Linked DNA regions of Homo sapiens: regions 1 and 2 are each reported to be linked to region 3. The links are microRNA targets in miRTarBase. Many come from high-throughput screens and were not tested one by one. Region 3 holds a microRNA gene; each other region holds the end of a gene's coding sequence.
The links. The annotated mature microRNA hsa-miR-378a-3p reads ACUGGACUUGGAGUCAGAAGGC and lies in region 3 at 2,253-2,274, opposite strand. An mRNA with a match to its seed (bases 2 to 7 or 8) in the 3' UTR can be bound and repressed. Matches are read on the target gene's strand: a 7mer-m8 pairs with bases 2 to 8, a 7mer-A1 pairs with bases 2 to 7 and ends in A, and an 8mer does both.

Region 1 (4,000 bases), not on the chromosome of region 3:
GTGAGGCTAAAGAACAAGAGAGGAAAAAGGAGAGGAGTCGAAGTATAGATAAAGATAGGAAAAAGAAAGACAAAGAAAGGGAACGTGAACAGGATAAAAGAAAAGAGAAACAAAAAAGGGAAGAAAAAGATTTTAAGTTCAGTAGTCAGGATGATAGATTAAAAAGGAAACGAGAAAGTGAAAGAACATTTTCTAGGAGTGGTTCTATATCTGTTAAAATCATAAGACATGATTCTAGACAGGATAGTAAGAAAAGTACTACCAAAGATAGTAAAAAACATTCAGGCTCTGATTCTAGTGGAAGGAGCAGTTCTGAGTCTCCAGGAAGTAGCAAAGAAAAGAAGGCTAAGAAGCCTAAACATAGTCGATCGCGATCCGTGGAGAAATCTCAAAGGTCTGGTAAGAAGGCAAGCCGCAAACACAAGTCTAAGTCCCGATCAAGGTAGTATACTTTTTAAAGTATTTTGTCTGATTTTTAAAAAAAATTGACTGAATTTATTCAAAGTTGAAAGTGTCCTTTCTCTCTCTCTTTAATAAACTCAGTTTGGTACTTGATAAATAATCATAGTCTTAAATGTTAGAAATCCTATATAATATTATTTATTTAAAATTGCAGATTTTTAATTTAAAATACATTTTTATTTTTAAATTTTGTCTTTTCCCTTTTTTTTCAGATCAACAACCCCTCCCCGTCGTAAACGCTGAGGAATGATGTGGCAAGAATGCCATGATGTTCTTTAAAAAAATTCCATGAGTTTTAAGGGCTTGTCTCATTATAGAGGCACATTGTGGCTGTGTAGGTGAAACCAGAATCTTTTTTTTTTTTAATCTGTAAATAGGTGTACTTTTTCCAATGCTGCTCCAAGTTACTTAATAGGATTTCTTTGTATTACGTTTTTTTCAAAAAATATAGTGCATAATAAGACTATAAACATGCCATTCTCTTTCAGCTGTAATGTTCTTAAAATTATTCTTGAATGTACTGTGATGTCAATAAAGCTCTTTAGTTCATTTTTGTTAAACTCTTGCACCTTAATTTTATGGTTTTAATCTAAGGAACGTACTTTTATAAAAAGGCAGCTGGAATTTTGTATAACAGGTTTTAAAGGTACCTTCTCTCACCTCCCCCAAAGAAAATGGTTTTTACTTAATAGTTTGTCAAAGTTTGTAAATTGTACCCATGGACTTTTGCCAGATTCCAACTTTAAGGGTATGAAAGAGGGCTAGAAATAGACCTTTACTTTTCATTTGGAAGTATTTGACAACTTTCTAAACTTTTCTTCCTATTTTGGGGATTTTCAAGTAATATATTCTCTGTGTGTATAACGTGTGGTTCACTCCTGTAAAATGAAATTGCTGGAATCAATCAAGCCAGTGCACCAGTAGAGTTATTTGTAAGGAACGATTGTGTTTGACAGTAATAGTCAAGTCTGGAACTATATTCTACAGTCACCCACTTCTGTTTTAGAAGCATTTTGAAACACTTTTTGGGGTTATAGAAATAAGACTCATGATTCAATATATTTATTTATATTTTTAAAGTATAATATGACCTCAAATCAATGGAGGAATGCTGTATTATGCAGGTTTGTGTCAATTTCCTGACATTAAAATTGTCTGATTTTGTCCGTTTCTTAAAATTATGATTAGTGAGTGGTCTAACAGTTTAAGGCATTGATAACTTACAAGTAGAATGGGGCTCTCAAAGCATTTTAACTCAGTTGCTTTAGGGTCCATTTTTTTATGTAATCACTTACTCAGTGATAAATGAATCTCTGAAAACAAATGCTTTTACATTTTAATTTAAAAAGAAAACAGGTGCAGGCCACAGAAAAGTTTTAAAGTATGCCTTCTTACCAGCAATAGTTCATTTTAAAAATCATGCCAGATTTTTGCCAAGATCAGTGTTTCCTCAACATGAAGATAGAAATAGATTTGTATAGTGTGCTCTTGTACCTCTACATAGATTATTATATAATTTTGAGCAGTTACACATTTATCTAAAGGAAATAAATCAACTGTGAATAAATGCATGTTTACCAAAATGGCTGTTTACAGTGCATTTAGTTCTGATATTTATAAAGATGACATTTCACAGAATAACTTTAAAATAGTTTGAAATTCTATATAGTTTAGACATCGATCACATCTGGAGACAAAATAAAATGTGCAATATTTTTTATGTAGGCGAGCTAACACAGTGTACCTAATTGCAGAATTATCTGATTAATTTGTAATAGATAAGTTGTATAACATTTTCATATCTTAAAATGTTTTTTAGATCAATCTTGAAGTGAAATATTTTCAAAATAAAATTCTACAGAAAAATTCTGTTGGCTATGATATGCACATTTTTGGGCAAGTTATGAACTAGAGCCAAAAGTAGTATTTGACAGTTTTATTTACTCTGCCGTAATTTGCAAGCTTATCAGTTAAGTCTGTAGTTTTTTTAAAAGCCGTCATGATATTTGTGATTATTAGTACATAAACCAGTGTTATAATTTGATATTTGGGTTTTTCAGACTTTTAGTGGCAGATTTAGAGAATTCTTTATTTTCTTGACATGTGATATAGTATTTATTTACCTTGAGTGGTAAGGTTTTATAAGGTAGGGTTTCCATGATTTAGGATGTGAATGCAAAAACTTACACATAAGTTAATTAGATGTATAATTTGGTTATGAAATCTTTTCTAAAATAATACCACCAGAAAATTAACAGATCAAATTTTTGAGACAATCCTTGGTCTGGATTGGTTAATGAAAATGTCTTGTTTAAGAGGTTCTATTAAAAAATATTTCTAGTGTATTAGTCATAATTGTTTTTGTGGAGTGGGGGTAAACCACACCATTAAGGGAATAAAATGTAATTTGAAAGAGGTGATTATAAGATTTGTTTCAGGCCCCAAAATATAAATAAAAATTGGTGTGGAATCTCGTTAGTGTATATGTTTTCTGCCACTATAAAATTACCTTTTTAGCATCTGTTTCTAGTGGTGTAATACCAAGTAGGTAAATTTCGCAGTCTATTTTTAAGTGTCCTGAGTTTTTTGTTTCCTTAAACACATGAAAGGTAATAGTAAAGAATTTTTTACTGTATTTGGGAATTTTTACATAGGAGTTGTATTAGGTTTCCAGTCTCTGTAGTGTTGCCTTACAGAAATCTTTACATCTAAACTGAGTTTTTCTTCTCCTACATAAATTTAAATGTATTTTGATTTACTGAAGTTTCTAAAATGTACTGAGTACAGACATACACCACATAACGACGTTTCAGTCAATGACGGGCCACATGTACAACAGTGGTCCCATAAGATTATAATGTATTTTTACTGTACCTTTTCTGTGTTTAAATACACAAAACCATGATATTACAGTTGCCTACAGTTTTCAATATAGTATTTGTAGCCTAGGAGCAAAAGGCTATACCATGTAGCCTGGGTGTGTAGTAGTCTATACCATCTAGGTTTATGTAAGTATACTCTGTGATGTTCACATCACAATGAAATCACCTAATGACACATTTCTCACATGTCCCCAAGTTAAGCAACTGCATAGTTGCTGTTTCTTGCTTTTTGAGATGGAGTCTTTCTCTGTTGCCCAGCCTGGAGTGTAGTGGCGCAGTCTCAGCTCACTGCAAACTCTGCCTCCTGGGTTCAAGTGATTCTCTTGCCTCAGCCTCCTGAGTAGCTGGGATTACAGCACCCACCACCACATCTGGCTAATTTTTGTGTTTTTAGTAGAAACGGTTTCACCATGTTGGCCAGCTGGTCTCGAACTCCTGACCTCAGGCGATCCACCCGCCTTGGCCCCCCAAAGTACTGGGATTACAGGCGTGAGCCACCGCTCCCAGCCGATTGCATAAATGGAAGTAGTAGTAGAGTCATTGGATTGAGCTGGCTCTGTTTCTTGATGTGTTTTAGGCAAATCACTAAATCACCATGGGCCTTAACTTCTTCAGCTGTGTAAGGGAGGAATTAGATGAATTTTTTTTTTTTTTTT
Region 2 (4,000 bases), not on the chromosome of region 3:
AGTGCTGAGGATAGGATAATCCCGTTTTGCCCTTCATTATACCAACGTATAGCACAAAGTAGACAAAGCACTAGGAATGGCCGCTGTTTCTGAAAAGTTACTGAACATGCTCAGTGGTGAAGAAGGATTGAAATATTGCAGCATAGGCAGATTTCAGGAAGATGTCTTACAGAAATTTTGTTACATTACCCCAGGCTACTGCACTTTACATATTTGAAGGACAACACATTATATTAAGCGAAGGAAAATTGATTTAACTGCTGGCCTCTGAAAAATTCTCTTTTCTCCTACCAGGTTCTACACATGTTTTAACACCCAAAAAGCTGTTGGATGATATAAAGATGCTGAATAAACCCAAGGATAAAGTCTCCTTAATTAAAGATGAATAGCATTTCTTTTTGGAGGGTTTAGAGATTCTTACTAATATGTTGAACTAAAATAGAAAGAAAATGTTGCTGTCATGTAATTTAAACAATGTAAATATTTTATGGAATAATGGCTTTTCAAATACATTTCTTAAGGAACTGTTTATGATTATTACTGGATTTGTCATTTTTGATAATTTAAATATTGCTGCTGCTTTGTAGATGATGAGAAGAAATGTTAAAGTGCTTTCTAAAAGGAAATTTTTTCACCTTTGGAGGAGAATATATTAGAGTTGTGGGTAATTTTTCACAGCCACCTATGTACATACTAATTACCCATTGGATACTTATATCTAAAAGTCTCATGCTGAAGTATAGTTTTTGGGAAAGAATGATTTTAAATAAAGAGATTGTAAAAGTAAAAAACTGTAAATGTATATGTATGATAGAATTGTTTCCTCTAAGTGTAGTTTTTCTTTCAACTAAAATTCAGTTTATGTGTAAAATAATTCAGTCATTAATAGAAATGGAGTGATTTCACAGTGTGTACTGTTTTGCCACATACTTCTAAAGAACACAATTTTATATAATTTTGAAATCATGTATGTTTAAATTAGAAAACCAAAAATCATGAACATTCTAAGAGAAAATAAATATAGAATTTAAAAAATTATTCTGGTTTGTGTTTTCTGTAGGGGAGAGGGGAAAGTTACAAATTTTAAAAGTTCTAAATTAGAGTAACAAAGAAGAAAAGGAATCTACCGTAATATTCCCACCAAGATAACTCCTAATGACTTTTTCAAAAATAACGTAATCTCTATATAGGGTTAGATAATATATGTCTGCAGATGTGTTTTGTTAAACAAAGGGAACATCTTTGTTTCAAATCTCTTCTTTTACTTGCCCTCATAGTGTTCTGTCATATGGCAGACCATAGTTTTATTGATTCAGAGTTTTGCTCTTATAAATAATGCTGCGTTGTTTGGGTACATACCTTTGCAGACTTACACAGACATTTCCATAATGTAAATTCCTAGCAGTGGTCAAGGGATTTGTGCATTTAAATATTGATGGATATCCATTTTTAATTTTTATTTAAGTAAATCCATCGCTTTTCCATTTTGGCTTCTGAATTTCACATGCTACTTAGAAATACCTTCCACACTCCAGGATTATAAATTTTTGATAGATTCATTCTATTTTTTTACAGGTAACTCACCCATCTGGAATTGATTTTAGTGTAAGAATGTGTGCTAGATATTGTCTCTTAGTACTTGGCATGACGTCCCATGCCTCCTTACCCCATACCACAGGGGATGAAAGGCTAAACATGAAGTTTTTCAGGTTCTAGGATAAGTAAGGTCTGAACAGTTTATATTCTACCAATGATGTGCACTTGGTCAAGATTTGGAGGCAGAGGCCATCTACTATGCCAGTAAGCAATCTCCCGCAGACAGGAATTGTTTGTAGCAACCAGACTCCACATTTTAGTGTCTTGTCGCCTGCTTCGTGGGTATGAGTTAATGCTGTGGCAGCAGCACTAGCTTCCTGTCCTTTGGGTCACAGATGGTAAAATGATCGTGGGTCTCCAGTTTCTGCTCCTACTGCTTTTTCAGTGATTTTTGTAACGACCTAATTCTCTGTATTAAATGCCTTTCTGCTTGAAATATCTAGAGAAGTTTGTTTCCTGCACAGAACCCTGACTTGATGGAGTATTTCATAGTGGTCCAGCTTCACTCCTTTCTAAACAGCCAGATGTTATACCAGATCCTATTGGATAATCTCTCTTTCCCCAACTAATCTGAAATACCACCATTATCATAGACTAAATTTCCATTTGTATTGTGGTCTATTTCTGGATTCTCTTTTAATGACCTACAGTTTGTTTTGTATTTCTTTTTCCCTATTTCAATTCATGGTATGTTTCAATATGTAGTGGAAGAAGTTCCTATTCAATCCACCTAAATTACTATTATTTTTCAGAAATTTTCTATCAGATTTTTCTAGATGAATTTTAGTATCCTTTTGTTGAGTTCCCAAAAAAAGCCATTTTGGTATTTTCATAGGATTTGCATTGTTCCTAGGTTAACTTAGGAAAAATCAACATCTTTTATAATATTGAAACTTTGATATTCAGGAATGTGAAATGTCTTTTCATTTAAATCTTCATAACCTTCAGAATCTTCATTTTCTTCATATAGTTACTGCACATTGTCAAAATATTTTTGTAGTTCCTTTGTGGGTTGAATCTTCTACTATTTTCAAATGGTTTTTTACACATAGAAATTTATTTATTTTTTTTTAAATAGAGACAGGGTCTTGCTATGTTACCCAGGCTGGAGTGCAGTCATGTGATCATAGCTCACTGGAATTTTGAACTCCTGGGCGATAGTGATCTTCCTGCCTCAGCCTCCCAAGTAGCCAGGACTACAGGTATGGGCCACCACATATGGCTAATTTTTGGGTTTTTTTGTTTTTGTTTTTGTTTTTTTGTATAGACAGTCTCACTGTGTTGCCCTGGCTGGTCTCAAACTCCTGGGCTTAAGCAATCCTCCTTCTCAGCCTCCCAAAGTGTGGGGATTACAGGTGTGAGCCATTGTGCCTGGCCAACTTTTGATATGTTAATCTTACAACTTTACTAAGTATTGATAATAAAGTAATAATATACAAATGCTTACTTAGTGCTTTCTATTATTAATTCATTCCATCTTCTCGTGTATTCCTGTGAGCATAGGTACTGTGATTATCATCTTTATTTTAAAGCTGAGGAAACCGACACAAAGAGATGGATGTAACTTGGTGTGGATGAGTGCATGGAAAGGAAGGGCCTGGCACAATAAACAGCCCTCTTTGCAAACTACGCATGAAAACAATATATCTCCAGTAAGAGGATTAGTTTTTGGTGTCTGCATTTTATCTGAGATCTTTGTGTGCCTCAGTAACTCCCTCTCCAGGGTCAGAACATGTGTGGAATAGGTATTTAGATTAATCCAATGGCCTGGAACAAATGGAACTAAGAGTGTGATGACAGCAAACACTGGACTGTTTATTCATTTGATCACTTGACATCTCAGTGACCACTTTACCCTGATCACACTGATATCGGATGTTTTGAGTCCTGTATTTCACATATATGTTAAGCTTTGAATTGCAGAGACCCTTTGTTTACAAAATCTCTTATGAATTTGAAGCCATAAGACGTCATCTCACATAAATTCCTTGTATAAGCTGATTTTTTTTCCCCCATAGAATTAGCAATTACAGGCCAAAGCAGGAGGATCACTTGAGCCCAGGAGTTTGAGACGAGCCTGAGCAACATAGTGAGACCACATCTTTTTTTTTTTTTTTTCGTTCTATGAATATTCCAAAAGTGAGACCACATCTTTACAAAAAAAGGAAAAAAAAAAAAGCTGGGTGTGGTGACACGTACCTGTGATCCCAGCTACTACTCAAGAGGCTGAGGCAGGAGGATTGCTTGAACCAAGGAGGTGGAGGCTGCAGTGAACTGTGATCACACCACTGCACTTCAGCCTGGGCGAGTCAGTCCCTGTCTGAAAAAAAAAAATTACAGGTTTTGATTTCAAGACCCAGAAAAAGACTTTTTTGTTGTTGCAACCAATGGAAACCATTTATTC
Region 3 (4,000 bases):
AGTCTCACACAGATAAAGAATGGGCAAATGCACCCAGTGAAGGCTATGCTTCAATCTTCTCCCACACACTATACATTTGTCCAAATCTACAAACTGATTTGAAAAAGAAGTTGGCCCTGGCTTCAAGGGGTGTGTGGAGCCATTTTCCCAGTTCTCCATGTGGCAGGGGGCCCTTCTGGGTGCTCAGTCCCAGCTTTAGAACAACGAGGAGACAAGATACCAATTGCAAAATGGGCCAAGTTCAGAAACACAGAACCACAAGTCACCCATGATCATATGGGGAAGAAGTTTAGCATCACAAGTAATCAAATAAATGCACATTAAAACAATAAGGGTAACAGAATTTATTGACGAACAGACTGGTAAAAATGAAAAACAATGAAAATATCAACAGTTATCTGGGTATAGGAAACCAGGTGTTCCCAGACCATGCCAGTGCACAAATAAGTACAATCTTTCTAGAAGAGAATCCAGGAATGAGTTTGATGGAGTAATTTCACTTCTAGGAACTTAAAGGAAGAAACAAAGACATACATAAAAAGATATTCGTTTTAGCATTGCTTACAATAGCAAAATAAAAAAATTAAACAACGTAAATGAGTAACGATAAAGGATTAATTAAATACATCTCGGTTCAATCTTCAACAAAACATTATATAATCATTAAGATACTAAGTAGAATATTTACTGATGTGGAAAGATGTTCACAGCATATTGTTTGGAAGAGGAAAAAAAAAAACAAGTTACAGAACAGTGCAATTCCAAGTTACAAATCAGTATATTCAGGATAACTCCTTTTTTTTTTTTTTTTTTTTTTTTGAGAATGAGTTTCGCTCTTTTGTCCAGGCTAGAGTGAAGTGGCGCGATCTCGGCTCACTGCAACCTCCGCCTCCCGGGTTCAAGCGATTCTCCTGCCTCAGCCTCCCAAGTAGCTGGGATTACAGGTGTGTGTCACCACGCCCAGCTAATTTTTGTATTTTTAGTAGAGACAGGATTTCACCATGTTGGCCAGGCTGGTCCGGAACTCCTGACCTCAGGTGATTCACCCGCCTCGGCCTCCCAAAGTGCTAGGATTACAGGGGTGAGCCACCGTGCCCGGCGACTCCATTTTTTAAAAATAAGATGTGATCTATATGAACAGGAAATAAACAGTCTGGAATATACATGACAATTAAGTGGTTATCTTTGGGTCATGTTACATATTTCTCATTTTTTTCTTTATGCTTGGCAGTATTTTCTAACAATTCTATAATTAAATATTTTTAAATAAGTTGTTAGAACTGATGATTTCTAACATTCCCGCTGCCAACTCTGACATTTTGTGCATCTATGACTGATGCCCTAAGCAACTTCAAATAGCCCATATTTAGTGTGGACTTGCTGTGTGGCCTTTGGGGTCTAAAATTTTGCCCACAGCTGCAGCCCTCTGCATTCCTCTCTCCCACACTCGCTGCCCAGCTGTCTCCCCTGCTAGCCTGGGAGCTTCTGCTTGGCAGGACCCAGCTGCACCCCTGTCTGTAATCCATGTGCCTAGCCAAGAGCTAAGCAAAGGAACACAGCTCAGCATACTGACAGGTGCCTTGCAGGCACAATGATAAAAGGTACAACCCTAGTGCTAGAATCTTACTGGACACCAGACTCACACAAAGTGCTTGGTTGTATCACACAGATGCAGAAAACCAAAGGAGAGAAAGCAGGGCAAGCTGGGCTGGGAGAGCCTAGTAGAGGAGAAGGCCATGCAGGACGGGTGAGTGAGGGTACTCTGGGCCAGGGGCATAGCCTGAACAAAGGTGAAGCCACCCACAGTCCTTTGGGATCCATGCCTCAAAGCTTTCCAAGAAACTTTCGCAATCCTTGTTCTGCTAAATTTCCGTACTTTGGCCCCAATGGGTAAAAGTTAAGTCTCCTAAACAGAAGTCCTCCCTCTAATCTAACCCTGGATTAGCCACCAAAGACAACAACAATCTTTTGGGACAAAGACAATGAATTACCATTTAATCCACTTTCCCCAAAGCTCCCAAAGGGAGATGAAGGAGGGGAGGGTCAGGGAAAGTTTGGGGGAGGAGAGGGGGTTGCAGGAACAACCAGAACATCTCACATGCAAACACTGCTCACCCCCACCACCAGGCCATTGGATTCTCTTGCGGCACCACCAGCCCCATTTGACAGATGGAGGAAATGAGGCTCGGAGAGTTCAAATGGCTTGCTCCGGGGTCACCCAGCCAGAGAGTGGGGAAGGTGACTCCACTCAGGCCTTCTGACTCCAAGTCCAGTGCTATTTCTAGGTAACACACAGGACCTGGAGTCAGGAGCCCTGGGTGGCTCTGTCACCCTCTGGCTGCATGGTCCCATACAAGCCGCTCACTCCTCGCAGCCTCTTTCTCCAGCTGTAAAATAAGGAGGAGCACACTGGGCCCGCCCAGGTCCTCTTCCGGCTGGGCTCTCCGAGCCTTCTAGGGGCGGCTCAAAGCTCATCCTATCAATTACATTTCCCAAGTTGGGCCGGCAAAGATCACCAGAAGATCCTCGGCCTGTCATGTGGTTAAATAAAAAAAGCAAATGTCCCAGATTAACTTTCACTGCACTGCTCCTGCAAACACCTGAGTATTCAATTTTCTAGTTTCCTTAGTTGAAATATTTCTGCTAGCTAGGCTCGCTGGGCGGCTAAAGGGCAAAATAATTAATTATTGCTGAGCCAAACACTGAAGATCGAGTTAAAATCCGGGGTACAGTCCAAAGCGGACAGTTCTTGACATGGGTCCCTGAACGAGTCTCCGGCTATTTCAGGCCTCTCTCATCCGCTTTTCAGCCAAGAGATTCGGAGACGCCCCAGGGCAATTTCGAGATCTGGGGACAGAATCTTCCCAGGAGTGACTCTGCCCCTCCTCCCGCACTCAGTGCCCGCTAGCCCCAAGCTGTCGGCTCTGGGGGTACTGAGGCTGGGACCTGCCTTCGGCGCAGACACCGGCGCGGGGCGTGTGACGGAGCCCGGCGACGACGGCGGGAGCTCCACCGCAGTTTCGTCAGAGGTAAAGGTACGCGCCCGGCGCGCGCGGCGTGTGCACACACACACACACACACACACACACACACACCCGCGCGCGCAACCCGCTCATCACACATTCCCCTCGATCTCGAGAAGCGCAATCACACGCCACTAGCCCCTCCGGCCTCTGCCGCGAACCCACCCGAGCGCGCCCGCCACCGACCACGCGGCCCCGCGGCTCCCCTACGCAGCGGCGTCTGCAGCGGGCCAGGGGCGGCCTGCCTCCCGCGTGGCGGGCTTCCTCTCGGCGACACCCTGCCACGCCACGCCGTCCCAGCCGCCAGCCCGAAGTCGCTGCCCGGAGCTGAACGTCTCGGCTGCGGCGTCCCTTCCAAGTCGCGTTTCACCGCAAGGAGTCAGCTTGCAAGCCTCTCCCCGCCCACCCGGTCCCATGACAGCTGCTGCCGCCCAAAGACAGGCAGATTATAACAAGAAGCAAAGTTTCCCTCTCTCTCCTCCCACCTCCCTCCCCCAATCTCCGCCTTCCCCCTCCCTTCCACTGTTATGCAAAACGGGCCGGCACCGGCGCTCCCACTCCAGGTACCAAACCAGCCCCCGCGAGCCGCGCCCGGTTCCGCCCGGCCGCCCCTCTCCGTGCCCAGGCGTGTGCCAGCACCCGGGGCTCCTCCGAGGTTCCGCCGCATCCTCAGCTTCCCAATGACCCGCAGCCGGGCGCCCAGAGAAAAAGCCCTAACTCTGGAGCCAAACTTTATGCTTGCAACAGGCATTGGGTGGGGAAAATGGGGGAAGGGGTGGGGGCCGCGCACGCCTCGTGCTGACATTTTTGGTGGCTGCTTGTCCCAGCAGCACCCCTCTCCCAGTCTCCAAGCCACCAGCTTCCTCGCTCCCCCGCGCCCCGGCACACCAGAGCACCCTCTCCTGTCACGCGCGTGTCGCCAGTGGGGCTCCCGGGCTCAGCCAGTGCCTGGGACTCCGCCTCGCCTTCCCTTCCCC

Region 1: miRTarBase lists PNISR as a target of hsa-miR-378a-3p. The part of its 3' UTR that is shown has no 7-base or 8-base seed match.
Region 2: the mRNA of STXBP3 is a reported target of hsa-miR-378a-3p. The part of its 3' UTR that is shown has no 7-base or 8-base seed match.

The regions. Positions count from the first base shown.
Region 1 is chr6:99,396,986-99,400,985 of GRCh38, reverse strand. PNISR (PNN interacting serine and arginine rich protein) reads left to right here. Exons shown (of 12, transcript NM_032870.4): 12 at 1-2,936. The coding sequence ends at 446. Among named protein-coding and RNA genes, the nearest start is that of COQ3, 4.8 kb to the right of the region's middle.
Region 2 is chr1:108,808,489-108,812,488 of GRCh38, forward strand. STXBP3 (syntaxin binding protein 3) reads left to right here. Exons shown (of 19, transcript NM_007269.4): 19 at 295-1,035. The coding sequence ends at 389. Among named protein-coding and RNA genes, the nearest start is that of AKNAD1, 47 kb to the right of the region's middle.
Region 3 is chr5:149,731,141-149,735,140 of GRCh38, reverse strand. MIR378A (microRNA 378a) reads right to left here and starts at 2,316; the gene lies at 2,251-2,316. All of the region lies in intron 1 of PPARGC1B (PPARG coactivator 1 beta), which reads right to left. RefSeq lists silencers at 3,164-3,393, 3,424-3,513, 3,534-3,583, 3,594-3,693.